Regions from separate parts of the Homo sapiens genome. Here all the other regions are linked to region 2. Evidence: fine-mapped QTL for protein levels in blood plasma. Region 2 holds a variant in brackets. A gene starts in each other region. All regions are shown on their reverse strands. Region 1 holds the start of HEPACAM2 (HEPACAM family member 2). Region 2 overlaps ST6GAL1 (ST6 beta-galactoside alpha-2,6-sialyltransferase 1). Region 3 holds the start of KEL (Kell metallo-endopeptidase (Kell blood group)).

Evidence for each region. PIP is the posterior inclusion probability: the model's chance that the variant is causal. Protein levels are from antibody-based Olink assays in UK Biobank. Linkage for the fine-mapping came from a reference panel and not from the study's own genotypes, which makes the PIPs less certain.
Region 1: it holds the start of HEPACAM2, and the variant in region 2 is fine-mapped to the plasma level of the HEPACAM2 protein (UK Biobank, PIP above 0.99).
Region 3: KEL starts here. The variant in region 2 is fine-mapped to the plasma level of the KEL protein (UK Biobank, PIP above 0.99).

The regions. Positions count from the first base shown.
Region 1 is chr7:93,221,099-93,231,886 of GRCh38, reverse strand. It overlaps HEPACAM2 (HEPACAM family member 2), which reads left to right and starts at 5,418. Exons shown (of 10, transcript NM_001039372.4): 1 at 5,418-5,519. The coding sequence starts at 5,441.
Region 2 is chr3:187,018,133-187,028,811 of GRCh38, reverse strand. The region is part of intron 2 of ST6GAL1 (ST6 beta-galactoside alpha-2,6-sialyltransferase 1); the gene reads right to left. Among named protein-coding and RNA genes, the nearest start is that of ST6GAL1, 93 kb to the right of the region's middle. RefSeq lists enhancers at 2,622-2,951, 6,561-6,830, a silencer at 4,505-4,594, a cis regulatory region at 6,833-6,926 and a promoter at 6,833-7,410. The variant C/T (reference allele first, on the strand shown) is at 6,923.
Region 3 is chr7:142,959,502-142,969,787 of GRCh38, reverse strand. KEL (Kell metallo-endopeptidase (Kell blood group)) reads left to right here and starts at 7,425. Exons shown (of 19, transcript NM_000420.3): 1 at 7,425-7,584; 2 at 7,916-7,993; 3 at 8,287-8,428; 4 at 8,684-8,860. The coding sequence starts at 7,582. RefSeq lists a cis regulatory region at 4,942-5,343 and a silencer at 7,466-7,661.

The DNA of each region.
Region 1 (10,788 bases), not on the chromosome of region 2:
AGGAAAGGTGTGCTCTAGGTTGCCCAATAGGCGGCCCTCCAGGTTTAGGGCTGTTCTACCTCAGTCTTGGTATCCCCTGCAAAAGCTCTAAAATCGAAGGATTTTGACGCCCGCCTATTATTTTACCTCCGTACTCTAAAGCAGTGATGACGGGAAATACGACAATAACGAGTATACCTGTCACTTTAAAGTCCTCTTTTCAACTTTTGGCAGTTTAGTTAAATTGGGGAAAGGAACAGAAGTGTCTTTGGGGACACAATTTTAAAAGGACTTTACAATTATGAGAATATGAGAAGAAGAAGAAAAAGCAGCCCTAAAGCTAACAATGATAGCTAACACTTATCGAAAGCCGAGTACCTGTCAGGAACTGCTAATAGCTTTAAATATATGATTTCATTTATCCACACAAGAATCCTGTGGGTTCCCATTTTAAAGATGACGAAGCAGGTATGGCGAAATTAAGGAACTTGCCTAAGATTACTGCAGATGTGCAAGTAGAAACTGAAGGATTAATCGGTCATCAGATGTGTTAAGATTTTCATGTATTGTGCTGAAGAAAGTTCTAAAGCATGGCACCAATTTTTTTAAGTTTATTTTATTATAATGTTAACTTCTAAAAGTATGACACAGACCCATAATTTCAAAAATATTTCTTAGAATAAAAAAAGTTCAAGTGTGTCAACGTAATAAAAAATACTAGGTAAACAATAGTATGGGTGGTAGTCAGATATGGCAAAACTAATAAAGGTGATTTGCAAATGACTGAAGTTTGGGGGACACTAACAGAGGTTATTTCTGATTCTGAAATTCTATTTTCTCACCCCTTAGAGCCTCGTTTTATTAATTTTTACAAATGAGGTTGTAATATTTTAATATTTTATATAGGGCTTTGTAAGGATAAGTGAGATGATGTAGGTGAATGAAATGTATAAATTGTAAAGCACTATACAATTATGAGGTATTATTGGTTTTGATTCTGCCCAGTTCTCTACTCCAACAGAACCACCTTGTGCATACTTGTATCATCACTGCGTTCAGCAATTCCTTTGAAATTATATGTTTACCTATATGCTTCTCTGACTCTGTTATTTCTAACCCCTTCAAGAAATTCTGGTCACATTTAGGGCAAGTCTAGTTTAGTTTATTCTTTACCTTCTCTAATCTTAATTGTCAGACTGTTCTTTGTGTGTGAAAATCTGCAATATTTAGAAGTCCCTGAAAGCATCAAAAGAAACAAAAACTGCCAGCCATATTAGCCTATAAAATAAAACCCAAGTCAATAAACATTTCTTGATTGTTGCGCTCAAGGCAACACTAAAATAAGCACTTTGATTAATAATCTATGGTTGTGGTCACAAGGAGTTCACAACTGGGTTTAAAAGCATATCTTAGGGGTGATCTGAGTTCAGTAGATCTCAAACCTGACTGTTCAGATTCACCTGAGGTGTGTGCTGTTATTATTGTTGTTTTCTTTGGGGATGTTTGTTTGTTTAAAATCTTCAGTGATTCTTAAAGGCAGTCCAGCTCTAGCATGTCAAATCCATGCTGTAAAGATGAGAAAACGTATCTGTATAAGGGTTCGAGACCACATATTTCATGAGAGCTTGATCTAGGACTAGAACCCAGATTCAACCCCGGAATTTTCTCCCTCACATACTCAAATACACAAAGTTAAAGATGATCCCCCCAAAAAGTTTTTTTTATCTAATATGTGTATTTCTATTGGCCAAATTCAGAAAAATGAGTGTTATCCCTATCTATTCGACACTGAAAACGCAAGAAAGTATTGAAACTTTGTTTTACTCCAAAACTCTACATTTTAGTTTATTTCCTACAAACTGGAGAAATGGATAAAAATGGATACAGTCTTCTAAATGTTTTAAGGCTATAACTATAATATTGAAAGCTTGTAAAGTAAATCAGCGCTGGTGTCTAAATAAACTATATTTTCTAATTCAGCATACCTTAACACTATATGAAATAATTGAACCTTACGTTATTCATTTCTATCTGTCTACGCTCAAAAAAACAAAAAACTTGGCATCCTAACAAACACTTTTTAAAAGGTTGGACATGCTGCTATTTCCTTTCCAATTTTCAAAAAGGTATTTATTTTTAAGATTTATTCAGGACTTTCACATTTACCTGAGAGCTGTTGTTAGTGATAGTCCAGTGCAAAATAATGGAAAGTTTAGATGGTCTGCCACCAAATCCTGGGGAAGGTTGGCTGGATACCAATTCCTTGGTAAAGGAGTGCAGAGCCAAGAGTTAAGTAAATTGATCTGATTCAGAACAATAGGATTAGTAGTAAAGTAGGATAAGGGCATATTACTAATGGCCCAAAACAGGAGGAATGTCTGGAAGCTTAAATAAAAGCTGAGATCCTGGTTTGATTAGAAAGATAAAATTTCTTACCACTCCACAAATACCAAAGCAGTGGAGAGATGCAGCCCCTCCAAGATGATATGACTACACTTCTTGAGCAGGCCATAACAGAAAACAGAACACTTGCCAAAGGTAAAGTAGTGACCTAAAGAGGTGCCCAGGAAGAAGACATTACTGCTTAGTATTTAGCAGCCATATAAGATAGATCAAGGCTTCCACGAGGCAGCTTTGTAGACTTTACAGAAGTGAACACTAGCACAGGCATAGGCATATGTGATAGCCTCCTCTGGCAGCTAACTCTCCCTGTAAACTGGAGAGAATCCACTAATTACAACAATAAGAAACATTTCTTTCCCCAGTTCTTATTCCCCACTGTTCTGCATCTACATTGACCTTGGCATTTCACCACCTCTCCTTAATTGTTTCTGCCACTGCAAAACATGCGTGTGCTAGCTACTTGTGATTAAAAATGTGGATGTTTGAAATGCATGCAGCAGACATTTACTGTATGAAGTAATACCAGTCTGCAATTTAAATAAACTAGATTGTAAACTGTGTAGTGTGATTTGAGAGGTAATAAAAATCCCTGCCCCCAACAAACATACACACACATACACACACACACACACACACACACCCTCCTGCACAGGAGTATATGTGTCCATATCCCATTGTAAATGCACGTGGACACACACACGCATACTCTATCCCAGTGGCTCCTTACATTGCTTGCAGTTTAATCACCGTGGATATAGATTGTTTTAGGTTAATCAGCCTTCTCATTTTAAATGCAAATATAACTAAGATTGGTAAACAGTAACACTACAGGCCCTTTTTTCCTGACTGGAATGATAACAGCAGAACTTCCCAGTGGGTTACAGGTGTGATGTGAGATATGGATGGTAGGAAAATTCTTATAATTATAAAACCTTCAAACTATTTTTAAGAATCATGTAAAAATTAACAATTGTTGAAGTTAAGCTTGAGCACTCTTTTTCTCACTTCCTGTGTAAACATGTTGAAATCAGAAGTTACTCCAGCAGGTAAGAGTTTATATCTACAGTTTACCACTAGAGGGCGCTTTGTCATGATTATCCCAGTAGCCCTTTCCCTAGATGTGCCGTATTATATTTCAATATGTGCCATGAAATAAAAAGATTACAAGTAAGATTCATATGGCATTTATTTTTTAATGTAGCATCTACTATCACCTTATGTCATGAAACAGGGAATATTTTCAAATACAACAAAGAAAATCTCAGAATAAAAAACTCCTTTATATTGAGTATATTTAACACTAGGGAAAAACACAGTACATTGTCTTTATTTCTCTTTTTGCCAGGGACCCAACAAACTTCATTATAATCCAGCACTAGATTGAAAAACACTGAAAACAGCTAATTTGATAACGGCAATTGGAGATTAATATCAATCTAAAAGATGTTGGGGGAACCTATGTGATATCTGTAGAACTTCCATATTACTTTCCAAATTGTATTTTGTGCAATCCAATATTAAAATTTATTTGTATTTCTTACGCATCAACTGAGAATCGTAAGACGGGCCAAGGAGCACTTAGAGTTTTGTTTTCTGGAGAAACAACTTAACAAAAATACCAGTTAAGCATTATGCTACGTGCCCAACATCCATGAATGAATAAGATTATTCTCTGTATTCGAGAGCTCAGAGGGAAAATAAACATCCAATAAAATAAAGATTAAGGAGATAAGTGCTGCAATAGATGTGTGTACCAGATTTAGAGACAGTGCAGAGAAAGTTGTGGCATTGTTATTATTTTGCAGGGAGGTGGGGGAAGCATGAGGAGCTCTTGCCATTTTTCTGAAGCATGGAGGGATCTGAAAGTGACTGATCTCTGAAGAGGACTTCGTTTTCCCAATAGTCACTTACTTTCTTTGCTTATAGAAGTCCTTCTAGAAGAGTTCAGAGCCCTAATGCAAAGAGTGTTTCCAAACTTGGATTCCAAAGTTACTATCATTCCTTTTTTACTTTAATTATGCTTGAGGTATAGTCTTCCTTCCCCTCTTATCATTGAACTTCTTCAGTGGGCCTTTACTGTTAAAACTGATGCATGCAAGGAATTTTCCTTGATTTGATGATTTGATGCAGATTTGGATATATCCTTAACATTTTATATAACAAGGCTAGAACCAGAGCCTTCTTGCAAATAGGGGTTAACTAATAACTTAGTAAATTAAGCGGACATGCTTAGACTATCTGCTGCCATGACAATGGAGAGACCAGGTTGAAAACCTGTAACCTGGACACTGCAGTAGAGGTAAGATCTTTTCTAGATCATTGGTTCACTTCCTCTATGCATCAGCTGTGAAAATGTGGCCTCAGATACTATCTCCTGGCATGCACTTTTCATTATAATTATGCATGGTCCATGCCTCAGTCCCAGTTGGAAACACACCTGTGATTTGCTTTTAAAAATAAGATGAATTCAAAGATTAAATGAAATCAGTCATTGTAATAGGAAACACTGCATAGAAAAAATACGTTTTAAATATATTCTGGATCTCTCTTTTGATTCATTGGTAGAATTTTTACATGTTAGTGACTTCATGAAGATTTATAACTGTTTAGCAGATACATGAGCTACTTCAATTTTCATATAATTTTTTTTAATTTTAAAATAATAATGGCATAGTTCTGCATGATAGAAAACCAGCTTTTGTTTTTAAGGAAATCTCACAATATTCTTTCATTATGAAAACATGCCATTTTTCAGTAAAGTCACGCAAAAGGATGTTTTCCTTCATGTGATTTTTTAATAACTAAGTATAATTTATGAAATATATAGACAATTACTGGTAGTTGCTAAGAAACTCTTCTGAAAGCCATAAGCCTGTATTCTTGCTAAGCACATAACAGGTGTTCCCACTCCCTGTGTCCTTTGTATACACATTCATTCTGTATTCAAATCACAGAAGCAAGAGGCAAGATAGGGTCTGTTACCTCACTGCTAATTTCCCTAGCAAATAAACCAGCAGCTGCTGGTCCAAGTTACCACTGAGAACAGGGCACTGCATGCATGGGACAGGATGCTTTCATGGAGCCCTTCGGTGACACACTTGGGGTCTTTCAGTGCAAAATATACCTCCTTCTCTTCGGTAAGGCCCTGTGTGAATTGTGTTTTAGCTGTTTGTTAGGTTTTTTTTTTTTAATTGTGGACATAAGGTAAATATTTGCTTTAGGCTGTAGATGCATTCAGATAATTGAAGAGCAGGTCAGAACCTTTTAACAATAACACACTGTTACAGCAAAGAAGCAGGAACATTTAAGAGAAATGAGTTTCAATAAATAGATTGTTATTGTTTTCTTGGAACAACAATTATTGTCATAGCACTCATTAAGATAATTCAGATATTTTTAAAAGATAATGAATTTCTTCTTTTAGAGTTTACATATAGGTTCAATAGTCTTTAATGCATTTATTTCAGCAAATATTCTAATAGGCCATGAAATTGTGACCACTTAGAGTGAAACTACAAATAATTTACGAAAATTGTTTTCTTTTTAATTAAAGATATTGTTGCAAACTGTTTACTGCTTCGTTTTAAGTTATCTGTCTCATCTTATGAAATATGGAAGAAAGGTAAGATTCCAAACTAACAAAAAAATTTCCTACACAAAAGGGAGAACGTATTTGAAAAGATTGTTACTCCAAAATGCCTTTAGCTTTTCTCTTTGCCCAATGGCTAGTCCTATTAAGAATTTTTTTCTACCTTAATATTTTCCCTCATTCTCCTCTTTATCTTTTGAGTTTAAAGGAGTCTCTTTCCAGCATTCCAACTGCTGTCTGTCAACATTATTTTCACCAGATGTTCTCATTTCCATTCTTCCTATTTATCAGTTTTAAAAGTCAAATCAATTTCTTGTTTTGTTTATATTCAACAGATAGGAGTTCAATTAAGGCTACATTTTTTAAAAATTAAGAACAGCTTAGCAAAATAAGCAATTTAACTTTTAGGCTTCTTCAGCTATTTAGAGCTTTACTTTCACTCCTATATTTTGTTAAAGTTTGCATTGTAAATGTTATTATTCAAATTCATACCTACTGTTGTACCTATCTCACACATTTGAAATGTACAGTTTGTAAATTTTTTTAAGTCTTTGAGTTTCCCAGAGTTGTGATTGTTCCAGTTATCACAGTATTTATGTTATCAAATTTAAGCCTATAATAGATTTTTGTTTTCTAAAATTTTTTGAAAAAGTAAATAATTATTATAACTGTCACTACCTTTGTGCATTTGTCTTCCTTTTGAAAGTATCCTGGGTCATCATCCCACTTATTTTTATATTTAAAACAGTAGGACTACTATCATTTTATAAGTGTTGTTTTTGAAACTGGCGTTAAGAAGAACTTAGAGACAATTTAGTTAAGGAATTCAACTAAAATAAAACAAATGTACATTAGGAAAATAGCATGTTCATAAATAGCTAAAGCAGTTTTTATACCTTAAGACCTTCTCTCTTCTGCAAATTTGCTTTTCTCCATAGGCAGTGTGTTGTAAAGACCACAGATGACTTGGCAATCTTTGCTTTTAGGAATATTGAAGTTTTGTTTGCTTCTTCTTTTTAAAAAATTTTTAAAAATTTGAAGCCTAAAATGTACAGTTTGTACAGTTTATTCAAAACACATCATAATTTCTATTTTCTCTAAAGATGCAAGATTTTATTTTCAGTCAACAATACTTGTGTTATGCTTGTTAATACCACACATGATAACAGGGAAGTAAATGCCAGCTATTTTGAGCTACAGCAGAGGTCACTTTGTGAAATCTGATGTTTATATTCAATACAATGAAACCGGTCTAGGGAGTCCTTTGTTGCTGGAATATAGATAAATTCTACAGTAGGACTTCAAGTGTACCTTAACACTGGATACTTTTTTATAGTGCTATTGTCATACAATGTAAGAGGGTCTGTAAAGGAGGGATCATTGCTGCAATTTTGTATGTCAGATTATGATTAGTATTATAAATGTTTCTCCAGATTTGTGTAATGCCTTATATGCAAAAAGTCAAGATTTTTTTAACAGAACTATAATTTATAAGAGTTTTTGTTTGTTATACTCAGAAAGTAATAGTGAATATAATAATAAAATCGAATTTAAATTTCCGTTTAAGTCCAAATATTTGGACTACTAAAAATAAATTTAAATTTCATCAATTTTTATATTATTTATTATTTTTGTTTTTGTATTTTTTCAAATAGAGACAGAGGTCTCGCTGTGTTGCCCAAGCTGGTCTTAAACTCCTGGGCTCAAGCAATCTGCCACCTCAGTCCCCTAAAGTGCCTGGGATTACAGGCATTAGCCACCACAACCAACCTTTTTATATTATTTATTTTCTTGAAGTTTATCTGTTCATGCAGAGGATGATTTTCTAAAATCAATAGGTTTAGTCCTTTGGGTTTTCTCATACAACTAGAAAAGAGCACTTGAAAATTTCTCAAAATGAAGCTAAGTTTTCTCACATTAGTAAACTACTGTGTTTGACAGCATGAATTCATCACATCTGTAGTGGGTGACACATCAATGATAAGAGAGTATGTGTTCCTAGAATGTGGAGGAAGCATTCAATTATCTGTTTATTCCCAAATTTCACTACAAGCAAAGATTGTATCATATTGATAGGTTCATGTCCAATGAAGAGATTTTACGTGGCTGAGATAAGATACTGTATAAAGAAAATTTCATTCCCTGCTGACATTCTTATAACTTGCTACCTATAATTTATCTGATAAAAAATTGTATAGGCAATCTCTAAGCAAATAGTTACTGTAACAGCTGTGCTATTTCTCACTGTCACACAAACATTTGAAAAAGCATACATATTTGAAAAAAACTTTTCATTTAATAAGAAAGCACTGAACCTATTCAGAGATATTGATGGCAATATATTATTTAAGGTATTATTACATGATGCAGTCTAAAATAGACCCCAAAACTAATTTTCCCCTAAATAATGATCACAAACGCTATATTAAATATCTTTTTCTACTAATGTAGTGTTATTTTTTCTCAGAGCTTCAATATTTGTATTGTATTTAATATTTCATTAAATAAAATTTTCCTCCTATAATTTTAGTCATGGACTCTCTAACCAGTCTTTTCATATTTAAGATTCAACATTCTGGGTCAAGATCCAAAAGTCATCAACATTTCTATTCCAGCAATATTGTCACCCCATAGTAATATAGTGCCTCCCAACCATTTCCAGAATATTAAATAAATCTCAATCTTTTCAAATATAACTACAAAGGAAGTCAATTACAAAAAAAGCAGAGAAGGACTTTTGCAATGGCTTTCCCAAATGACAAGCACAAAATGGGTCAGAATCCATTCAGACCTTCTCAGCCTAATGGTGGTTTCTAGGCTGAGTTGTGAAATGTCCTAAGTGAACCAACACATCCATGACAAAGCTGCTCCCTATTAGCAGCCATGCAGCTTTTTCCAGTGCATTCCCAAGGCAATTATACAGACTTCCATCATTCCCCTTGATTTCTTTGTAAAAAACACAGAATTGCTGTTTTATTAAAGGATATCCAAGGATTGACAACTTAATATATGAACCAAAAACTGGGACTCAATTCTTCAAAATTATTTAGGCCCTCTCTCAATTTGGGTCCTCTCAAAACTCTCTGGGCCCTTCACCTTCAAATATAGGTAGCTGCTACCCTTAGAAAAGCACCTCAGGTTGTCAATAACATAAAATTAAGAGAGTCGAGAAAGGCCTTACACCTTATCTGATATTACCTCCTATTCACACATGAGAAAACTGAGTCTGAAAATTAAAATGACTTATTTAAGGTCACATAACTGACCAATCACCATTTTACCCCAAGTATGTGTCCTTTACTAGGACTTCATATTTCAGTAGATCTTTAACTTTATTAAAGTAACAAGCACAGTAATCTTCAAGTTAAGAGAATAGGTGCTTGAAAATCATTATTTTAGAGCTATTTGCAAGTGATAAATTTAAGACTCAATGGCGGACATAGAACATGGGAGTCCAAGATCAGGAGTGAGCCATGAAACACTTGTAAATATTTTCATATTTACACAAGTAAAAAAAAAGGAGGGAGCAATACACTTAATACAGTGAAAGGTCCAATTTACATATCTTAAGTTAGTAATAACAGGTACTAAGCCTATTTTTTTTTGTTGTCGCTTACCAGGAACTTGTCAGGAACTGCCTATCTTCAACTTCAATGAAAGACATATAAATGCATTTTGTTTTGTACAGAAAACAGATAGACAAAGAGGAATCTTTTCCTGTGCTGATCTCCCATCCAAAGGCCCAATGTCTTACTAAACCTATGACTTTAAGAGTTTCACCCCGACTGTCAGCCTCTGCTTCACATATCTTAGACATCACTAATTTTGAGACATAGATTTCTCTCTCCCATCTTTCTTTCTCTCTCCTACTATTTCCTTGCGAAAACCACTACTTCTTTTCTGCAGTCCACTTTATCTCCTCTTTAGAATTCCCAGCACCCAGTTTTCTCTTTTTCTAATCACTCAAATTAGGAAAAATTCCAGATTTAATAGTCTTACACTTGGCAGAAAAGAATACAGAAGGGAATTCTCATCTTTGTAACTGCTTTGTTATGGACCAATCACCAAAGTGTGCAAGTAGGTCCATTATCAGAAGAAAAAAAAATTCTTAGAAGTTAATCACAAAAACACACAGAGGCCAATGAGACAATAAGACATGTCTTTATGTTTCTTTTACAGTCATCTGCTTTTCAGTCCATATGGTAAGTTTCAGTTGCAAGTCTAGGAGTCTCTTCTCCCTCTAACTAACTATCTTCCTCTTTGGTGTTTTCTCCTCTTGGATTCTTTCCTCTAACTTCTCTGCCAACCCCAGAGTCTCACTCTCTACTAATAGCTAGCCAAAGGCCCAAACTGTGGGAATCTTTGCTTCTACCTCCACTCTGGGAAGGAAGGAGATAAATTTACTGTTGGTAGAACTGGATTCCTCATAGGAACAGGCCTACATCTTTGAGTTTTTCCAAGGAAATAATCACAAAAGGCAAACAGATCTTTCTACCTTTCCCTTTTTAAAATTGATGGCCTTTCATGACATGACTTGGATGAAGCTTGAGGACTCCCTTTCTAGTAGAATGAAATCAAAAAAATGTAGAAAAAAATGAAAAAGTGGAAGCGATCAAAGAGGATGAACATTTTGTACTTGAGAAATTTAAAATTGTAAAATGCTTCTATTTATATCTAATTTCCATCTCTTCTCACCTGCTTAAGGATTTTATTCCACTTTCACCCATCTCTATTCTGCCTCATCAACATTTCCCTTTCCAGTGAAACATTCCCAATAGCAAAAAACTCTCTTTATTTCACATTTTTGATCCTTCTCC
Region 2 (10,679 bases):
TCAGACAAATCCAGAAGGTAGGACTTCCTATGGGACAACTGAACTGGTTTCATCAACAAGTAAATGGGAATAAAAAACAAATGGCTTCGCAGATATAATAATATGTAATACGTACACCTTGTCTGAATCTTGGTTTGATTCACCTTGGGGACAAATGGGGATATTGGAACATAGATTGGTTATTATATGGTATTAAGAAATTATTGTTAATTTTGTTAGGTGTATAAAAGTATTGTGGTTATATAAAGAAAAAGTCCTATGCATGTGAAGTAGTAAGAGATGAAATCTACTTTAAAAATCTACTTTAAAATACTCCAGCCAAAAAATAGATTCAGCAAATATGAAAATAATGCAATGTCATTTTTTGGATGTATTCAAATTAAGCTATGTAACAAGACTGATTTTCAAACTCCTTTCTTCTTAGACAGTGATATAGTTTGGGAGTGGGGAGAGTTTTAAAGAGCTTGAAGAAAAAAGTCACGATAGACAATTGTTTCTGTTTTACTCAAGGAATTAACTAAAAGATATATGACTTTAGAGAAGTCATATATTGAGCCACTTATTGCATGAGTTCTAAATAAACTCCACTTCCCTGCCCTGACCCTAAACCTCTTGACCTCATTTCTCTTCTTTAAAATGCCTTATTTCTCTTTCCTTTACAGTAAAACTCCTTGAAAGACAGTCCATAGTCTTGTTTGCAATAGCTATCTTCCCACTCTCACTTGAACCCACTCCAACCAGGCCTCCCCATCTCCATGAACCTGATCTTGTCAGAGTCACAAGGACCTCCACGATCTCCACATTGCTAACCAAATGGTCAATGTTCAGTCTTCATCTTATTCAGCTCATCAGCAGTCCATAACTTCCTCTTCCTTGATGCATATTCTTCACCTAGCTTCCAAAACCTATACTTCTCCTGGCTTTTCTCTGCCTTACCGGTAATGCCTTACTGGTCTCGTTGCTGGCTCCTTCTCTTCTGCCCCACTTTATGCACAGAAATGCCCTAGACCTGCCCTTTCTCTACCTATACTCACCCTCTACTGCTTGTGAGCATCTTGCGGTCAGCTCTCCACCTACCCAGCCCCCTGCAGTTTGAGCTCAATACCTGTTTGTTGAAGTGCACTGAGTCCGGAAAGTCGGTTCTGTCAGTGAGCTTCTACAGAAAGGAAGCCTTTGAAAATTTTTTTTGAGAAAAGAAGACGGGGCAAGAAGGGGGGCCGGAATAAAACACTGCACTCACTTCACTATTTACCCTCTTATCTGTTATCTGTAGAGAGGAGGCAACACTGAGGAGCACAGTGATTCTCAGACTTAGAGCACACCCAAATTATTAAAATCACTTGTTAAAATGCGGGTTCCTGAATTCTGTCTCAATCATTCTGATTCAAGTAGTCTGGGAGGTTGGGAGAATATTGGGGGGAAGTTGGAAATCTGCATTTAATAAGCACCCCAGGTAATTAATTCTCAGGCAAGTGGTGAGAAACAGGTCGCTGAGAACAGTGCTACTGAAAGTGAGATCTGCAGAGAAGTGCTAGGCTGAGAAAGCTTTTCAAGATGCAAGATGAGAAAAGTACAGAAATGGAGTGTAAGTGACTTTTACAGTAATTTTAAAGAGTAATTTTATGCCTGTTAGATCAATACTTTTTAAAATGGGGCTTGTATTTCAAATGTCCTTTTTCTCATTTCATGATTCTGGAATCCATGCTTTTTTATTTATTTGTTTATTTTATTTTTTATTTTTTATTTATTTATTTATTTTTTTGGAGACAGAGTCTCCCTCTGTCGCCCAGGCTGGAGTGCAGTGGTGAGATCTCGGCTCACTGCAAGCTCTGCCTCCAGGGTTCACTCCATTCTCCCGCCTCAGCCTCCCCAGTAGCTGGGACTACAGGTGCCCGCCACCATGCCTGGCTAATTTTGTTTTTGTGTTTTTAGTAGAGATGGGGTTTCACCGTGTTAGCCAGGATGGTCTCGATCTCCTGACCTCATGATCCACCCGCCTCGGCCTCCCAAAGTGCTGGGATTACAGGCGTGAGCCACCGCACCTGGCCCCATTTTTATTGTATTTTACGTAACTACTGATGTGAGAGGAATTGGGAAAAAAAATTTGGTTCTTCACCACCAATAGTTTGAGAAGCCTTGGCTTTGGAGAAACAGTTCACTCAGGCTCTAGTCTCAAAAAGCTAGATTGAAATCCTGGCTTTTGTACTGTAAGTTATCTTAGGCCAATTAGTCAGTTTCTGTGAACCTTGTGTCTTCATCTGCGAAGGATAACAATACTTAAAAGGTTGCCTCTGCAGGGCTGTGCTGACAATTTAATGATAGATTTTTATCACTTTATTTTAGCTAATAATTAATGAGCTTTTACTATGTGCTAAGTAATTTACAGGCAGTAAAGGTCCTGTAATTTGGTGAAGCTCATTTAATTCCTGCAGCAACAACAGTGCCCAAGGCGAGCACTGTTATCACCATGTGCTTCACAGAGTCCCCAGAGGAGCCTGCCCAGGCTGTCTGGCTCTACCACCCCAGCTCCTACCCACCGAGCTCTATCAAGCGGGAACCAACATGGGTCAAAACATTAATCATTTGTCAAAACATTTCTGACAAGTCACCGTTTTGCTCAAAAGCGCAGCAAAGGTCAGAAGCATGATATGCAACAAGAAACCGACTTGTAGCTGGTGAATCTGAGAAGACAGTGAAAGAAAGGAAGCCATGAGGGGCGCGCAGTGCCTGAGAGGCTGTGACTGTTGGCAAGTGTTTACCTGAGGACAGGCCCACCTGCATGGCTCATGGTGGGGAGGGGGAGATCCTGCCCAGAGCAAAGCCCTGAAGATAAAGGGCTTTCACTCCTGCCAAGGGTCTCTTACCAGAGATTACATCTTTTCCCAGCCAGGCAGCACTGATAATGAAGTCCTCAGAACATTTCCCTGAGTACATTTCCCCAGAGGTTTTCTAAGAGTCTGGAGAACAGAACTTTGTTGGGGGGTGTTGTGTCCCCACCATGAGGTCAGGCTGCGGTCCCTGACCAGAGCCAACCACTCGGAACTGATTAGGAGAGCTCTGAACTCCAGATTGACACAGCCATGGCAAAGGGAAATCATGAGCCATTTGCTACTGTCTTCACCCTTGCACCCCATGCACAGACAGACAGACTTGTATTCATAGAAATATCTGCCTTCCTATTTGACAGGTGCCTGGCAAAAAGTAGGCCTTTCGTGCCCCATGAATTCCCTTTCTGTATAATGCCCACTCCCCACTACACACCCCAGCCCCAGGAGGCATCTCCCACATGCTCACCACACAATTTGCACTCCGCTTGGTAAATCAGCATTAAGCAGAGGAGAGCGCAGGAAGGGCCTATATAGAGAGTGGAAAAAACACTTCACCCCTCCCCAGCAACACAGCTACCCACTCTTTCCTCCACATCCCTACACTACACCACACCCCTATGCTACAGAGAGCCAGACAAAGAAGAAAACGGGCCCGCCATCTCCTCAGAAAGAGGAACTGTCTCACCTCCTAATCTTTACTACACTGCTTCGATTTTTCTTGGAGTAATTTAAAGCAAACGCCAGACTTTGTATCAGTTTCCTGCTACCAGCTCTTCCCAACTGCGGATCCAACAAAAAATTAAGCCTTAATGTCCTAAGACCTCCATTGTATGCAACGCATCAACTAACTCCCATGGCATCGAGAATTACCTACGTACCACCCCTGGCAGAATCGTACCACCCCTGGGAGAATTGAGAACGTAGACCCTCAGATTCTCTACACTGTGAGACACACACACACAGACACACACACACACACACACACACACACACACGCACCAGGTTCTGCCAGAGAATATATGAATATAAATAATAATTCAATATGATCACAATGCCAATATCACCCAATATCCAACCCACCTTTAAATGTTTACCAATTCTCTCAATAATGTCTTTTACACTAACCTGCTCAAAAGGGGATCCAAACAAGGACAGGACATTTTGTTTGGATGACTGGATGATGTGCCATTTTCAATTCTCTCTTATCTAGAAGAGTTCCTCGCTCCCTTACTTCTTCTTTTCCACGGCATATATTTGTTGAAAAAATGAAGTCATTTCTCCTGTGGAGTGGCTTATGTTCTGAGCCTGGCTCACGGCTTCCTCAGGGTGTTGTTTAATGTTCTCCTCTCTGCTCTGTGTTTCCTTAAACTGAGTGTTAGATTTCAAGGCTTGTTGAGATTTGGTGGTTTCAAATTCAATGGTTCTCCCAGGCTTTTTTTGTTAAAATATATACACATATACTCTCTCTCTCTCTCTCTCTCTCTCTCTCTATATATATATATATATATACACATATATATGTGTATATATGTGTGTGTGTATATATATATAGAGTATATGTGTGTGTGTATATATATATATAAAACATTTAGGCTGGGCGCGGTGGCTCATGCCTGTAATCCCAGCACTTTGGGAGGCCGAGGCGGGCAGATCACGAGGTCAGGAGATCAAGACCATCTGGCTAACATGGTGAAACCCCCGTCTCTACTAAAAATACAAAAAATTAGCCAGGCGTGGAGGCATGCACCTGTAGTCCCAGCTACTCAGGAGGCTGAGGCAGGAGAATCACTTGAACCTGGAGGCGGAGATTGCAGTGAGCAGAGATCATGCCACTGTACTCCATCCTGGGTGACACAGCGAGACTTTGTCTCAAAAAACAAACAAACAAGCAAAACATGTATATATGTATATATATAAAACATATATATGTATATATATACCCAAAAGGATCTAAGTCCTGGTAGTCTAAGGGAGTTGGAGGTGAGGAAATGAATAGGGAAGGTTGAGTTCTTCTACTTTGTGGTGGCCCCGGGGCCTGTAAGAAAACTTACACCAATACTCATGCGATAGGTTCATTCTTTTTTTTTTTTTTAATTATTATTATACTTTAAGTTTTAGGGTACATGTGCACAACGTGCAGGTTTGTTACATATGTATACATGTGCCATGTTGGTGTGCTGCACCCATTAACTCATCATTTAGCATTAGGTATATCTCCTAATGCTATCCCTCCCCGTTCCCCCCACCCCACAACAGTCCCGGTGTGTGATGTTCCCCTTCCTGTGTCCATGTGTTCTCACTGTTCAATTCCCACCTATGAGTGAGAACATGTGGTGTTTGGCTTTTTGTCCTTGCCATAGTTTGCTGAGAATGATAGTTTCCAGCTTCATCCATGTCCCTACAAAGGACGTGAACTCATCATTTTTCATGGCTGCATAGTATTCCATGGTGTATATGTGCACATTTTCCTAATCCAGTCTATCATTGTTGGACATTTGGGTTGGTTCCAAGCTATAGGTTCATTCTTTCAGCAAATGCTGATTGCCTACTGTGAACCAGACTGCAGACACAGCAGTAGAGAAGCCAGCCAGAAATCCCTAACCCCTCCAGCACTCACCTTATAGTGAGGATAAATAAAGAGTCAAACAACATAAATCCGTGGTGCTTTGCAAGGAGATAACTGATATGCAGACAATTAGAGTAGGGAAGAGAAATAGGGACAGCTTGGAGTGGGTGAGGTGGAGATTTAAATCAGATGATCAGAGAAAGCCTCACTGAGAAGAAGACATTTGAGCAAGGGTTGGAAGGAGGTGTAAACCAAAAATAAAATCCTAAGCCCCCCACTAACCAACTGAATGGACTCCTTTTTGGCCATGGGCACCCCAGAGAAACCTGAAAAACTGAATTCCCAGCCATGACAGAAAGGAGGTTACACCCTCATCATACCCCTCCCTTTTGGGGTTTAGGTACAAGTGACCAGCATTAAGGTAAAATAGAGATTATAAGACTGACCAAACAGACCCTTTATGACAATAAGATACCAAACTATACACAATACCTAAGGCCATAAAAGGCAAAGATTAAGTCATACCCTAGAAACAATACAGTCTCATTAAATGGGTTTTTTAATTAACCCAGTAAAATGTGGCTTACTCTCCAACCTGACTCTGGTATAGTATCACATGACAGACAGCAGACTCTGAAGGAAATTAAAATATTTTGCCCCAAAATACATTTCTTTGACATATTTGGAAAAGGCTGCCAGACAGCCTTTGGACTGCAAAGCCATCTTTGGTGGGGGAAACGTGCATCTCCAGAGAATCGATATTAATGTCTCTTCCCTTGCTAGGCCTTTCCCAGATCTAGGAGAGATTCTAACTGAGAGTCAGACACCCAAAGGTCTGAGAAGAGACAATCACTATCTATTCACCCAGAGGGCTGCTATCTATGAGGCTCCAAGGACCTAGGCCCCCACAACCTCCTTATCTTACTCAGGCATTCCTTCCTACTGACTTCAAGTCACTAGACAATAACTTGACTCTCTCAGCTACTGTTAGCTAAAGAATCCCTAAAACGCACTTAAGACTTGTAAGGCCCCTCAGCCCTCCCCTAACCCTCTACCCCCCAAGTCCCTGTGTAGGGAAAACTCTCTGTAGCCATCTTTCCTCTGCTCTCACACCACAACAATCAACACAGAAGATGACTTATGTGACCATATGTGTGGGGGTCCCACCCCAACACCAAGCAGCGACACCAGCTTGGTGTCCTCTAATTCAGTTCCAACACTATCTACCTGGAAATAGTGTCAGATCCTACAGATTGAGGGCTTAGTGTCCAAGACATCCCCCCTCCACCAGTCACAAGTCCAGGCCTCCAGAACTTCTTTCTGACCAACCAGCTTCCATTGGGGTTCCCCTCTCCGTGGGTTCAATTAATTTGCTGGAGCGGCTCACAGAACTCAGGGAAACACCCTACTTACATTTACTGGTTTATCATCAAGGATGCTGCAGAGGATACAGATGAAGAGATGTGTAGAGCAAGGTATGGGAGAAGGGATGCAGAGCTTCCACGCCCTCCCTGGTTGTGCCGCCCTA[C/T]AGGAACCTCCTCCTATTAAGCTATCAGAAAGTTCACCCAACCCTGTCCTCTTGGGTTTTTATAGAAGCTTCCTTGACGTCAGCATTTCTTCCCCCAGGGCATAGGGTAGGAACCTCTCATGGGAAGGTTTTTTTTTTTTTTTTTTTTTGAGACAGAGTCTCGCTCTGTCGCCCAGGTTGGAGTGCAGTAGCATGATCTTGATTCACTGCAACCTCTGCCTCCCGGGTTCAAGCAATTCTTCCTGCCTCAGCCTCCCGAGTAGCTGGGATTACAGGCGCCCACCATCACACCCGGCTAATTTTTCTATTTTTAGTAGAGACGGGGTTTCACCATGTTGGTCAGGCTGGTCTCGAACTCCTGACTTCAGGTGATCCACCCACCTCGGCCTCCCAAAGTGCTGGGATTACAGGCATGAACCACTATGCCTGGCCTCATGGGAGGGTTGTAAGGCCCACAGTCAGGCCAGAAAACATAAAAACCTTGCCTTGGGGCAGGTGAAAGGACGGCAGGAGAGAGACTGTTTCTTAGGGCCTGTCCCTGAAGTCTAAAAAGCCCAGCATTCTAGCAAGACTGTAGCAAGGGCTATGGGGCTATGCGCCAGGAAACATGCATGGAAACCAACACATAGTCCAGGCATGATGGCTCACGCCTGTATTCCCAGCACTTTGGGAGGCCAAGGCAGGTGGATCACGAGGTCAGGAGATCGAGACCATCCTGGCCAACATGGTGAAATCCCATCTCTACTAAAAATACAAAAATTAGCCGGGCGTGGTGGCATGCTCCTGTAATCCCAGCTACTCAGGAGGCTGAGGCAGGAGAATCACTTGAACCCAGGAGGCAGAGGCTCAGTGGGCAGAGATCACGCCATTGCACTCCAGCCTGGGTGACAGAGCGAGACTCCATCTCAAAAAAAAACAAAAAAAAAAACCACCAATACATATATCCTAACACCGCACCCTCCCCCACTTTGAGATGTCTCACATTTTTTGGACAGAACTACCAGTTACCTTCCATGTACTGATTTCCAGATATCCTTGCCTGTAATGCCTGTCTCCCTAAAATGTATAAAACCAGACTATGGCCCAACTGCCTCAGGGCCACTCACTCAAGGCTTCTTGGGTTTGTGTTTTCTCTAAGCTACAGTAACTCATATTGCCTCAGGATAAACTTCTTGAAAATATTTTACAGAATTTGGTTTTTCTGTTAACAGAGATGAAGGAGGCTACCATGCAGATTTCTGAGAAAAGAGGGTTGCAAGTAGAGGGAACAGCAAAATACCTACACAGGGGCAGCCAGATAATGTGGCGCCTTACACAGGTGTAGGGGTTTTGGCTTTCATCTGATTAAGACTTTGCCGATGTATGTTTCAAAGGCATCACCGGATGCTGCCTTAAGAATCAACTGTAATGAACAGCAGGTCTTATAGATGTTACCAAATTTAATTCTTACCACCACCCTGTGGGGTGGGGTATTAACAATCCTCTTTTTTAAATAAAGAAATTGAAACTCAGAGAGTTTAAGTCATTTGCTCAAGATGTCACTGTAAATGGTGAAACCACGGTGTGTTTTGTTTTTTGTTTGTTTGTTTGTTTTTGAGACAGAGTCTCGCTCTGTTACCAGGCTGGAGTGAAGCAGTGCAATCTCGGCTCACTGCAACCTCCACCTCCCAGGTTCAAGCAATTCTCTGCCTCAGCCTCCCGAGTAGCTGGGATTACAGGCACCCGCCACCACGCCCGGCTAATTTTTGTATTTTTAGTAGAGACGTGGTTTCACCATCTTGGCCAGGCTGGTCTTGAATTCCTGACCTCGTGATCCACCCGCCTCAGCCTGTCAAAGTGCTGGGATTACAGGCATAAGCCACCATGCCCGGCTGACCAGATTATTCTAACCAACAAACTGGTAGTGCTCTTCATCCTATGTCCCTCTACTCAGGCCCTTCCAAGGGCTACTGCGAGCCTCTCTGCTTTATCACACCAACTACAGTTGCTAATCACTGTATTGACCTTCTGGTGACACCTATTTACTCTGCCCTGATCTTCATCTCCTTAATCTTTAGTGCACAAACCTCACCCTCATCTGGACCTTAGAACCCAAACTTTCTGTTCTTAGACTTAGAGTGCTTGACACCCTGTTGCCCCCAGAGGGTGGCATAGTGCCTCCGAGAGGGGCTCCATGTGTCCTGGCTGCCAGAAACCCTCTCCCATGAAGGACTCCCATTTCTCTAAGAGCTTGGATTCTTAATGTGTGCCACCTGAGCTGCCACTTAATGCTGACCCTTCTTTCTCTTTCCTCATATCAGGGATAGCTGGCTGCCCCACAAGAAGTTTGCTCCTTCTGCCATATAGTTATTGCTGTAAATTACTGTCCAGAGAGGGATTGCATTTTACACACACACAAACACACACAGCATATAGATGGGATCATTTTACTAGTTATTGGCAAAGAAATGTGAGCAAAAATAACATACATCACTTCTGGGCCAAGATGGTTAAGACGTGAGTTTATTTGCTCTAGCAGCTAGCATTACCCTATAGAGCTACTCAATAGAGACTTCCTGAATATTTATTTCTATGGTTTAAAACCATCAACAGAATATTCAGCTATAGATTTTTCATATCTCCTCATCCCAACATTTCACAATCCCAGTGAAACAACAGAAGCACACCCTAATTTAATCAAAGCCAAGAGGTCCTAAATTCTTTCACATCAAATCATATCTCTTGTATTTTGTTTCCCCCGACACGATTCCAAGATTTTGAAAGATGTTGTCGACTAACTTTAATTTAAAATTTGAGTTATTTGTTATCAAATGAACAAAGATACTGTTGCCAATCAGAGGTTCTGAATGGCATGAGATTGCCACGACTACCACAGTCAGTTGATAAAAGTTTAGCATAAAACAAAGAAACTTGATTTTCTTGGCTGCGCAGGTTTGCCGTGGTGAACGTGCTTCTCCCATCTGGCTTTTCGAGATACTCAAGTGTCTGGTGGATCTCTGGAGGCCCTGGACAAGGGACTCTGGTTTGTGGAGCTTACTCCAATAATCGTAACTTTGTGATTACAGCCATAGACACAATTCTTGCTTAGCATGCCCCTGTGATGGCTAATACGGAGTGTCAACTTGATTGGATTGAAGGATGCAAAGTATTGATCCTGGGCGTGTCTGTGAGGGTGTTGCCAAAGGAGATTAACATTTGAGTCAGTGGGCTGGGGAAGGCAGACCCACCCTTAATCTGGGTGGGCACCATCTAATCTGCTGCCATTGTAGCCAGAATAAAAAGCAGGCAGAAGAATGTGAATAGACTAGACTTCCTTAGCCTTCCAGCCTACATCTTTCTCCTGTGCTGGATGCTTCCTGCCCTCGAACATCAGACTCCAAGTTCTTCAGCTGTGGGACTCGGACTGGCTTTCCTGCTCCTCAACCTGCAGATGGACTATGTGGGACCTCACATAGTTCCATGACCGTGTGAGTCAATACTCCTTAATAAACTCCCCTTTATAAATACATCTATCCTATTAGTTTTGTCCCTCTAGAGAACCCTGGCTAATTCACCTCCCAAAAATCAGGTTCTACTGGTTGGCTAGACACAGAAGGGTGCTTAGAAAAACCACCCCCAACAGCCCCTAACTAGGCAAAATTAAGGCACTCTATGTTTCTCCAGAAGAATCTGGTTTCATGTGTTTAGAAATCAGGAAAAAAACAATGTAAAATTACGATTTTTCTGGAGTATCAGATCAAACAGATACCAGCCTGCC
Region 3 (10,286 bases), not on the chromosome of region 2:
GAAATAAATCATCCAGTCAGCTGTGGTTACTATGCAGCATCCACTGTGTTATTTTTCTTTTGCTCTTATTTCTCTGAGTTAATGTCTGTTATCTACAGAGGTATTTGAAGGAGGCTTACCTTTATTACTGCTGTTGCAGACTATCATAAGAATAGCAATGTCTATTTCAAGGATGCTGTTTCCAGATAATAAAAACATCTAATTTTCAAGATACTGAGGAGTTCTGCATAAAAGAGCATTTTCTGCTCAGCTTTGAGCCACCCGTGGTAACTTGGGCTATGAAGCAGTACTGCGTGTTCCCAGTGCCTTTACGCACAAATCAAATACTCCTACAAATACTCTGTGCCAGTCATTTGCCTGTTTGCAGGTCAGTTTCCTGGCTTCCTCTGTTCTGCTCTGTATCACGAGGAACTGTTTCCCCAGGCTCTTTTCTTTCTGACTTCTGCAAAGATTCAGCCAAGGGGAAGAGGGTGGAAGCAGAGATGAAACCAGGATGTTTCTTGTTTTCTCTCTCTGCCTCAGGGGGCACCTCCAAGGGCAGGCATATGTCCACAGTGGCTCCATCTCCCACCAAATAGTTCTTTCTTCTAAGATCCCAGCTTGCTGAGAAGGTCCAGAATGGTCCATCTTCTGCACGTGCTACAACTCCCAGACTCTGGTAACACCCCTTCTCCTCTTTGTTCCTCTAAACTAAAGATTTGTGGTAGTTTTCTTCTGTTGATAATTTTAGGACTGCCTCATTTTCTCTCCCCCACCCATTTAACTTCTCAATTCTTCTATTACCTATGTATCTAGTTAGATGTATTAAGTTTTCTCTGAAATACCTAGAGCTGTTTCTATTTTCTTGGGAGGATTCCAACAGTTATAGACTTATAAAAGTGGCCAGGTGCAGGGGCTCATACCTGTAATCTCAGCACTTTGTGAAGCTGAGGTAGGTGGATCACTTGAGCCAAGGAGTTCAAGATCAGCCTGGGCAACATAGTGAGACCTTATCTCTACAAAGTAAACAAAAATTTAGCCGGGTGTGGTGGTGTGTACCTGTAGTCTCAGTTGCTTGGTGGGGCTGAGGTGAAGGATTGCTTGAGCCCGGGAGAGGATGCAGTGAGCTGTGATCATGCCACTGCACTGCAGCCTGAGTCACAGGGTGAGACCCCATCTCAAAAAGAGGTGTTCAATTCAAGGTCATACAGCTGGGAGGTTGAGGCTGCAGTGAGTCAAGATTGCACCACTGCACTCCACCCTGGGTGACAGAGCGAGACCCTGTGTATAAAAGAAAGAAAAGAGAAAAAACACAAGTTGAACAACTTGAGCAAGAATATTGAGGTCTCTGAGTGAACCAACAAGAAGTATAGGAACAACACGTTAGTATGAGATCAACTTCCTCTTTCCACATCATACTAGTTGTTAGGTACAAGGTTGTTGTGTGGCTCAACCCTATAGAAAACCATGCACGTTTTAGTTCATGTAATTGTCAATCCTTAAAATTGTGCAGTTCGCAACATGGTCATCTGTATCTAACAACACTGAATAGGTAGACATGGTCAAACCTCATTTATCTTAGGTATTAATATTTATCTATTAGTAGGATTAAAGTTAGTCTTAAGTAATAGAAAGAAACTACAGTAGCCTAAAGAAAATAGTAATTTTCTCACATGTAAAAGTTTGTAGAGATGCAGTCTAGAGCCGACATGGCCACTTTTCTCCACAACGTCCACAGCACCCAGATGCTGGGTTCCTTCTAGCTCAAGAGGTTAACAGTTCCCCCAAGTGTGAACCTCATTCCTGTCATCCTTATCTTCCTAGAAGGAAACATCTTCCTTCTAGGCAGCAGAATAGAAGAAGGGACAAACAAAACAAAACAACAACAACAACAAATCATGCCAAGGCAATGGAAAAATACCAAGTATCTCCTAAGGAAGAGTCCCAATAGCTGCTATATGACCCTCTACTTAATCTCCTTGGCCAGCACTTTCAGGACTGGCTTAGTGGGTTTAGATAGTTCCTTCTTTCATCTATGGTCATCTTTAAGGGGGAGAGAATCAGTTGCCATACATTGATCTAATGCTTTGACCTTAAACCTAAGAGACTTTAGAAGACTTGGGACCTTAAAGTCCCCCTTAAAAGAAACAGAGACCAGACTAGAAACCTAGAAACATAGGTTTTCAGTGCTAGATTTTATTGAGGTGAAAAAAAGTAGGTAAAAATTACCCAGCTACTTTAAAACTGATGTAGGACTGAAAACCAAGTTTTCCAACTCCCGGGTTCAGTGATCTGTTCATGATAGGTTGCTTCAAAGGAAAACTGTCTTTCTCCTGTGGCATATTAAACATGACTGCAAATTATTTGCAAATCCTCCCCTCAAGTGGTGGAGTTTATTTTAATCTCAGCTGGCCTTGGGACTTGAATTGACAAATAGAATATGGCAGAAGTGATATTGTATAACTCCAAGCCTAGGTCTCCAGATCCTTGCAGCATTTACTCTTGCTCTCTTAGAATCTAGTTGCCATGGGAACTAGCCCAAGCTAGCCTGCTAGAGGGGCCTCATGGAGGAGATCTGAGGCACCTTGGCCAACAGCCCCAGCCAACCAAGAACCATGTGTGTGAGACCATCCTGGACTAGGTAGCCCTGAAATGGCCTGCTATGTGAAACCAAAGATGCAAATGAGCACAGAGGATACTTCAGCTCTTCCTAATTTGCCAATCCATAGAATGGAGAGCCAATTTTTTTTAAGCCACCAAATAAGGGGTTGTTTATTATGGAGTAATAAGTAACTGGTACATTTGCTAAGAGGGAGACCACACAGCTTGTCCCATTCTTTTGTTTCTCATTGTTCCAAGTGAGACATTTAAACATAAGAATAAATGCTTGCTGGGCACGGTGGCTCATGCCTGTAATCCCAACACTTTGGGAGGCCGAGGCGGGCGGATCACCTGAGGTCAGCAGTTCGAGACCAGCCTGACCAACATGGAGAAACCCCGTCTCTACTAAAAATACAAAATTAGCCAGGTGTGATGACACATGCCTGTAATCCCAGCTACTCGGGAGGCTGAGGCAGGAGAATCGCTTGAACCTGGGAGGCGGAGGTTGTGGTAAGCCGAGATTGCACCATTGCACTCCAGCCTGGGCAACAACAGCAAAACTCTGTCTCAAAAAAAAAAAAAAAAAAAAAAAAAGAATAAATGCTTGTTCCTCTAACCATTGAGTTTTGGGTGGTTTGTAACAAAGCATTATTATGGTAGTAGTTGACTAAGACCTTGGTTTTAGCAAGAACTTATGTAAATTTTCTTGAGGAAACATATGTTGAATTGACACAACTTATTAGAGTCTCTGTATTCAGAGTACTATCTTCAAAACCTGTTGGATTAGGAAGAAAAATGTGGTGGCATGTAGAAAATACCAAAAAGAAAATAAAAAAGGACAAAGATCCTCCTTTTGAGCTGTTTCTACCCATACATAATTAAAACTCCAGACTTCTGAGCATTTTCTTCAAGTTTTTGACATATTCAAGTACCAATACAGCTATTATTTGTTTAGTATATTTTAGTTGATTTAATAAAAATACAGAGGCTATGTATTTTAGTCTTCTTAGAGTCATATATCTATAAAAGAAAAATGTATATAAAAATGAAAATATTGGACCAGGTGCAGTGGCTCATGCCTGTAATCCCAACACTTTGGGAGGCCAAGGCCAAGAGATCGAGACCATCCTAGCAAACATGGTGAAACCCCGTCTCTACTAAAAATACAAAAATTAGCTGGACATGGTGGCGTGCACCTGCAGTCCCAGCTACTCGGGAGGCTGAGGCAGGAGAACCGCTTGAACCCAGGAGGCGGAGGTTGCAGTGAGCCAAGATCACGCCACTGCACTCCAGCCTGCTGACAGGGCGAGACTCAGTCTCAAAAAAATATATATATATATTATATATATTATATGTATAATATGTATTACATATATAATATATATAATATATATATAATATAAATATATATATAATATATATAATATAAATATAAATATATATATAATATATATAATATAAATATATATTTATATATATACACACACACACACACACACACACACACACACATATTGAAAGAGGTCCATCTACTTATCACTTAAATTATTTCAAAAGCCACTTTGTGGTATACTGAACTTACAAGCTACTCTTTCCCAAAGGAGCTCCCCAATTCTCAAGTATTGCTTCCTTTGAAAGAGCAATCAGTGCACCCCAAAACCTGCCCCCCATGATCTGTTTCTCCATCATCTTCTGGGCAAAGTCCTCAACATTGCTTGTGATGTCAAGGCTTACTTCGGTTCACTCAGAACTGGGTTTATTGTTCTTTAGGGGGTAGCTTCTTAGTGGCTATCACTGCAATCGAGTGATCTTAGAAGCAAATTGCCAGTCATGTGCACACTTGAGAGTGTCACAATAGACAGATTAATGTCCTGTCCTTGATTTTGATACCACATCCACTGTAGATGGCAGCTGATTATGGATAGAACATTGTGGCAAAGGCCATGATCTTCAGATGATGAAACTGGATGTTAGAGAGTTTGAGAATACTAGTCCCCAAAACTGTCACCTCACAAGGCCAAGCAGTGAAACATAGTTTAAAAAGAAGAGTTTAGATGAAGGAAGATGTTTACTATGAAGAAACTTCCAAAAAACAGATACTTAGTGACTGAGAGGCTCAATGGTTAAGGCTTTGGTTCAATTCTCGGTTCTGCTAATTATTAATTTTGTAACTTTGAGTAAGTTCACTGTACTTTCATATCTCTCTGACCGCTCATCTATAAAATGGGGAAAATAAAAGCTGTTATTTCCCTCAGAAAGTTGCTGTGAAGACTGAAGGAAAATGTACAAGCAAAACATTTAGCACATTCCTAGCACAAAGAAGGTGCTCCGTAAAAAGTGGTTATTTTTATTATTACCAATATTTTATTTTGATACTATTATGGCATGAAACAAAACCTCCTGGAATTAAAATAAACAGACAGGACAATTGAGGGCAAGAAGGAGGCAGCATCCGAAAAGATAAATGTGGTCCATGTGCCACAGCTGTTAACACACCTCTTCTCGGGGCTTAGATCTGAGTGAAGGCTGCTGCACTCCCGTGACTGGGTATGGCTGTGCTGGTGATGACTCACCATGGAGTAGGATATGGGTGATAAGAAGAAGTCCTGCTCCTGAGACAGCTCCCAGGATGGAGGTTGCTTGGCCTTCAGGAGGAGGCTGAGTAGGAATGGTGGACCTGGCAGCTGTGCTGCCCTATCCCTGTGGCTGGCTCAGCTTCTCTGACAGGGAGAGAACCTAAGTCCAGGCTGTGGTGGCTGTCCATAGGCAAATGTCACAGAGCACACTCCATCTTCAACTTTCTCTTATCAAATCTAAGTGGTCTCCATTATCATCTTCCTAGGGAAACATCAGCTCAGGGGCTTTGATTGATAGAAAAGGAGTGAGGAAGGGAATATGTGTGAAGGAAGCTAAAAGCCCATGGGGAGAGTATTGGACTTTCTGTGGAAGGGAAGTTTGAAGAGGAGGCACCATCAGGGTGTACCCACACAGACCAAACACCTCTAGAATCCTGAGTCAGCTTTTTCCCCTCACTCTGATTCCTACTCCCCCCTTAATCAAAATTCCATTGTTCGCTGGCATCACTATTCCCCTAGTCATGCAGAAATGCAACTTGGAGCTCCTCTGTGGCTCTATCATAAACCCCTCCTCCATTCAATCCATTGCCATGACTTTATTCCATACAATTTTTCTTTCTACGCACTTCCCTCCCCTCTGCCATCCCCTTGGGCCGGGCCCTCCCTTCATCACTCCTGCAACACCAAACTAACCACTCTGTTTCTTGTCTTTTATCCAATCAGTCCAGATCCCCAATACCACACCGGCGTTTCTTAGATATTATTGTATCTTGCCACACCTTTCCTCAAAAGCCTTATTTTTCCCAATGCTTTCTTTTCTAATGTATGAAGTTCTGACTTTTCTTTATGACTTTCATGATACCCGACCAGCTGGCCCCAGGGGGCACAATGGCTTTACTCCACTTCTCCACACCCACCCTCATCCTGGCAAGTGCACCATGGCCCTAGCACAGTGCTGATGGAATCTGGAAATATCGCCAGGGGATCATTTGCAAGACTAACCTAATAAATTACATTATTTTTTTCCTGGGATGAGGAAACAAGGACAGAGTTGAAACACCTTCCCCCAGAAATGTGCTTGCCTCTCTCAGACCACAGGTAAGGGCTTAATATGATGTGAGAAAGAGGATTTCTGGCTTGGAATGCAATTCATTTCTATTAACATTTAGAAAGCATCTTGGGTGGGCAGGAATGAAAACCAGACACTGTACATGCTATGACATAGTTTTCAATCACTAAGGAGATGAAGAGGCAAGCTATCAGTGTAACAGAAAGCAGAATGAAAGAAAGAGGGGCTCAGTAAAGCCTTATTCTTTTGTAGAAGGCATGAGATCCTATGAGGTAGGCATAGGCAAGTATTACCCTCATTTTCCAGATGACAAAACTTGCTTACCTGCCTCAGAGTTTAAGTGGCTTGTTTATTGTCACAGAGCTAATAATTAGCAGATTAGGGTCTCCTAGCTGGGTGATCTTTTGAATGCATGACTTTGCCAGCAGCCAGCAGAGCTATGAAACACCGAGAGAAACAATTAAGCATGCTTGGGAACAGTGTGAATGGGCATGGAGCTGGGAGGCCTCCTGGGAAAGGTGGCATTTGACCTGGGAATTGATGAATCCCAGAAAAGCCAATCAGAGAGGTGTGAAAACAAAATTAAAATGGAGACTGGGCCTGAAAAATTCCCAGGCAAACAAAGCCAAAGACCTTAAAAATAGCCATATTCTTGCTAAAACTACAAACATAAATTAAACTTAACTTGGGTCAATTTCTGATAAATGCTTACAACAAATAAAACTTAACCCCAGCCAATGATAAGCAGCCAACTAACATATGATTATGTGACTAGGGACTTTCCAAAAAGTTACCTAAAAAATGCAATTATGTAACTGCAAACTAAGCAAATAATGTTTCATTTTGCTTCTATAACTTCCCAATAAATGCTTGCCTCTGACATTTTGTCATCGCAACACTAAACCTTTGTCGGTCTGGTGCTCCCCAATTCATGAATTGCTTCTTACTTAAATAAACTCTTTAAAATTTTACTGTGCCTCATATTTTTTTTAATACAGAAGAAATGAGAGAAGGAAGAATATTTTAGAAATAAAGGAACTTCATGGGCAGAGTCACAGTGCAAGACAAAAGGAGCAGACCAAGGGCAAGATTGCTTGGGGAGTGAAGACTCCCTCCCTCTTCTCCCCTGAGAAGCTGAGATAAAGGGGGAGGAGAAGCCTGGGTGCCCCCCACTGATAAGCAGGCTCCACCCAGAGGCCAGTCCTGTGTGTCTGGGGACAAGGCGAAAGAGCAGCAGAAGTGCCCCTTCTCCAGGATCAAGGAACTGGGGCGGGGGGTGTTTCCTGGACCCCAGTCCTCCGAATCAGCTCCTAGAGTGGAACCAGGAAGGATTCTGGAGCCACAGAAGATAGACAGATGGTAAGTCCCCTTTTGGAGTCAGAGGCTTAGCGGGGAGGGGTGAGGGTGGCTGTGTGCAAAAGTCCTGCCCCCACTGGAGGGGAGGGAATGTAAGGCTTACAGAGTAGAAAGGTGGGGAGAGAGGGAGGTAATGGGAGAGGGATCGAGAAATGGCACATTCAGGGGACAGGTTCGTTCTGAAGCCCATCTGGGAACACTGCTCCGAGATAAAAATATGTGTGTGGGGGCAGGGCAGGCAGCGAGGGTATCAAAATGGCCTGATAAAACTCTCTTCAATGCACCATTTCCTGAACCAGCTTCTCTCTCCTCCTTCTCCCTCCACTCACTTCAGGAAGGTGGGGACCAAAGTGAGGAAGAGCCGAGGGAACGCAGCCAGGCAGGTGGAATGGGAACTCTCTGGAGCCAAGAGGTAAGTGGCCTCCTCTCCTGGGTCTGGAATACACTGATGTTGTCACTCTCGGCTCTAAAATCCCACAAACACTCATCTACTAACTGTCTGCTTCATCCTCACCCAAAACAGTTGACATTCCTTGTTTTCTCATCTCCCAGGAGTTAAAGTAGGGCTGGGTTTAGGAAGAATTGGGATAATTATTTCTGTATAAAGGGACTGTAGCACCAACAGATTCATTCTCTCTCCTCTTCTTCCCATCCCTGTCTCTCAACCCCCATCTTGTATCTTTCACCTCTTGGTTCCTCCCACAGAGCACTCCAGAAGAGAGGCTGCCCGTGGAAGGGAGCAGGCCATGGGCAGTGGCCAGGCGGGTGCTGACAGCTATCCTGATTTTGGGCCTGCTCCTTTGTTTTTCTGTGCTTTTGTTCTACAACTTCCAGAACTGTGGCCCTCGTAAGCAAGATCCCAGACCCCCTAACCTAGTCAGCCCTCCCCCAGCCCTGGGGCCCAGGCCCAGTCCCTGCTCCTGGGGCTTCTGCCCACCCTGACCCTTGGGGTCCCCATGGTTCTTCTTCCTCCCTGCATCCTAACCATTTCTTTTTCATCAGCTCCCCACTTAGTTACTCACCTGATGTTCTTTGCCTAGCCCCTTGGGGGAGCCCTTGTCTTTTTGCCTCTTCTTTCCCAGCTCTGAGCTTTTCCCCACAGGCCCCTGTGAGACATCTGTGTGTTTGGATCTCCGGGATCATTACCTGGCCTCTGGGAACACAAGTGTGGCCCCCTGCACCGACTTCTTCAGCTTTGCCTGTGGAAGGGCCAAAGAGACCAATAATTCTTTTCAGGAGCTTGCCACAAAGAACAAAAACCGACTTCGGAGAATACTGGGTGAGGAAAGCAGGGTGGAAGATGCTCTGTGCAAGTGGGTGACTCTGTGCCTAAAATGACCATGACTGCTCCAAACCCTGTGTAGTTGTGGAACAACTGATTTGCACCATCCCAGGTGGGATTATACGGGTGGATGATTGGAGATGATGGGGGAGTAAAAGAGGCAGGATGGCGGGAGCTGCCTGGGTTTGCTCATCTCTCACTGTTTCCTGTTGCCTTGCCTTGGGTACCCTTCTTCCGTTTCTCTTGGTCCCTTTCTGCATTTTTTTCTTTATCTAATTTCCATCTTCTTTGCTTCTCCATGTATCCATAATTACTCCATTCTCTCCAACTTGTCCCTTTTAGCAAGCTCCATCTTTGTTGCTTCCTCCAAATGTTCAGTTTCTATCCTATGCATGGTGTTTTCCTCCACAAGCATCTCTTCAGCATCTCCTGCATTTCAATTCTTTTGTCCATCACTCTCATTCTCTAACCTCCAAAACCTCAGTCTCCCAATGACTCCTTGTCAACATTACCCTCTCCCTCTCACCATGCCGGAGCTCCCCTCTCTCACAATGATCTCTTGCTTCTTGCTTCTCCATTGAAACCTTGAACCATGGCAAGCAAGTTGACCTGGAACAAGTGGGATGTTAGAGATGGATGATTGGAGATGATGGATGATGGTGGAATGAAAGGGGTAGGATGGTGGGGTGAGAAGTGAGAGAGGGCTTCATCACTGTGCATAAGAGAAAAAGTGGGTAAGTACAAAGGATATGCTGGAAGAAGAGGAGAGCTGAGTTAATTGGCAGTGGAAGTAAAGTTCCTGCAGATGGAGGCTGGAGAGGAAAACTGCCAGGACTGAGAGGAAAACCAGAAGGATGAGCTGAAACTGAGTAGGAGGTTGGAAGTGCGTCCCAGGAAGTTGGTGGATGGTGGTGAGGATTTGGGAATAAGAACATATAAGATAGACATGCATTTCCAGTGCAAGGGAACCTAAAGAATGTGTTGACACTATCAATTAGAATCTGGGAAAAGTAAATGCACCCCTCTGCCCTCTTTTTTTGATGGGGAAAGAGTGGGAGGGGGCCTCTCTTTGGGTAAATGGATACTTTCAGGGAAGGCACAGAGATAAAAAGAAAAAATATGCTCAGGATAAATTATATTGCCTACAATGGGATGAATAGATATCAGGGGGACTGAGGGTGAAAAGAGTGTTAGATATTAGAGGGTGGATGATTCAGAGAGACTTGCATTTGATTATTGTAGTGTGTTTGTTTCCTGGGATCAATGGATGAGGAGTCTGGACTAGAAGAGTCTTCCCCTGTTTCTTCTCTTTGCTAAACCTTTCCTTATGAGTTTTCTTCTCTCCAAATCCTTAAAGTTCTCTAGTTCCCTGAATTTGTCTAATTTCTTCAATCATTTCTTTTGTCTTTCATTTCTCTCTTTT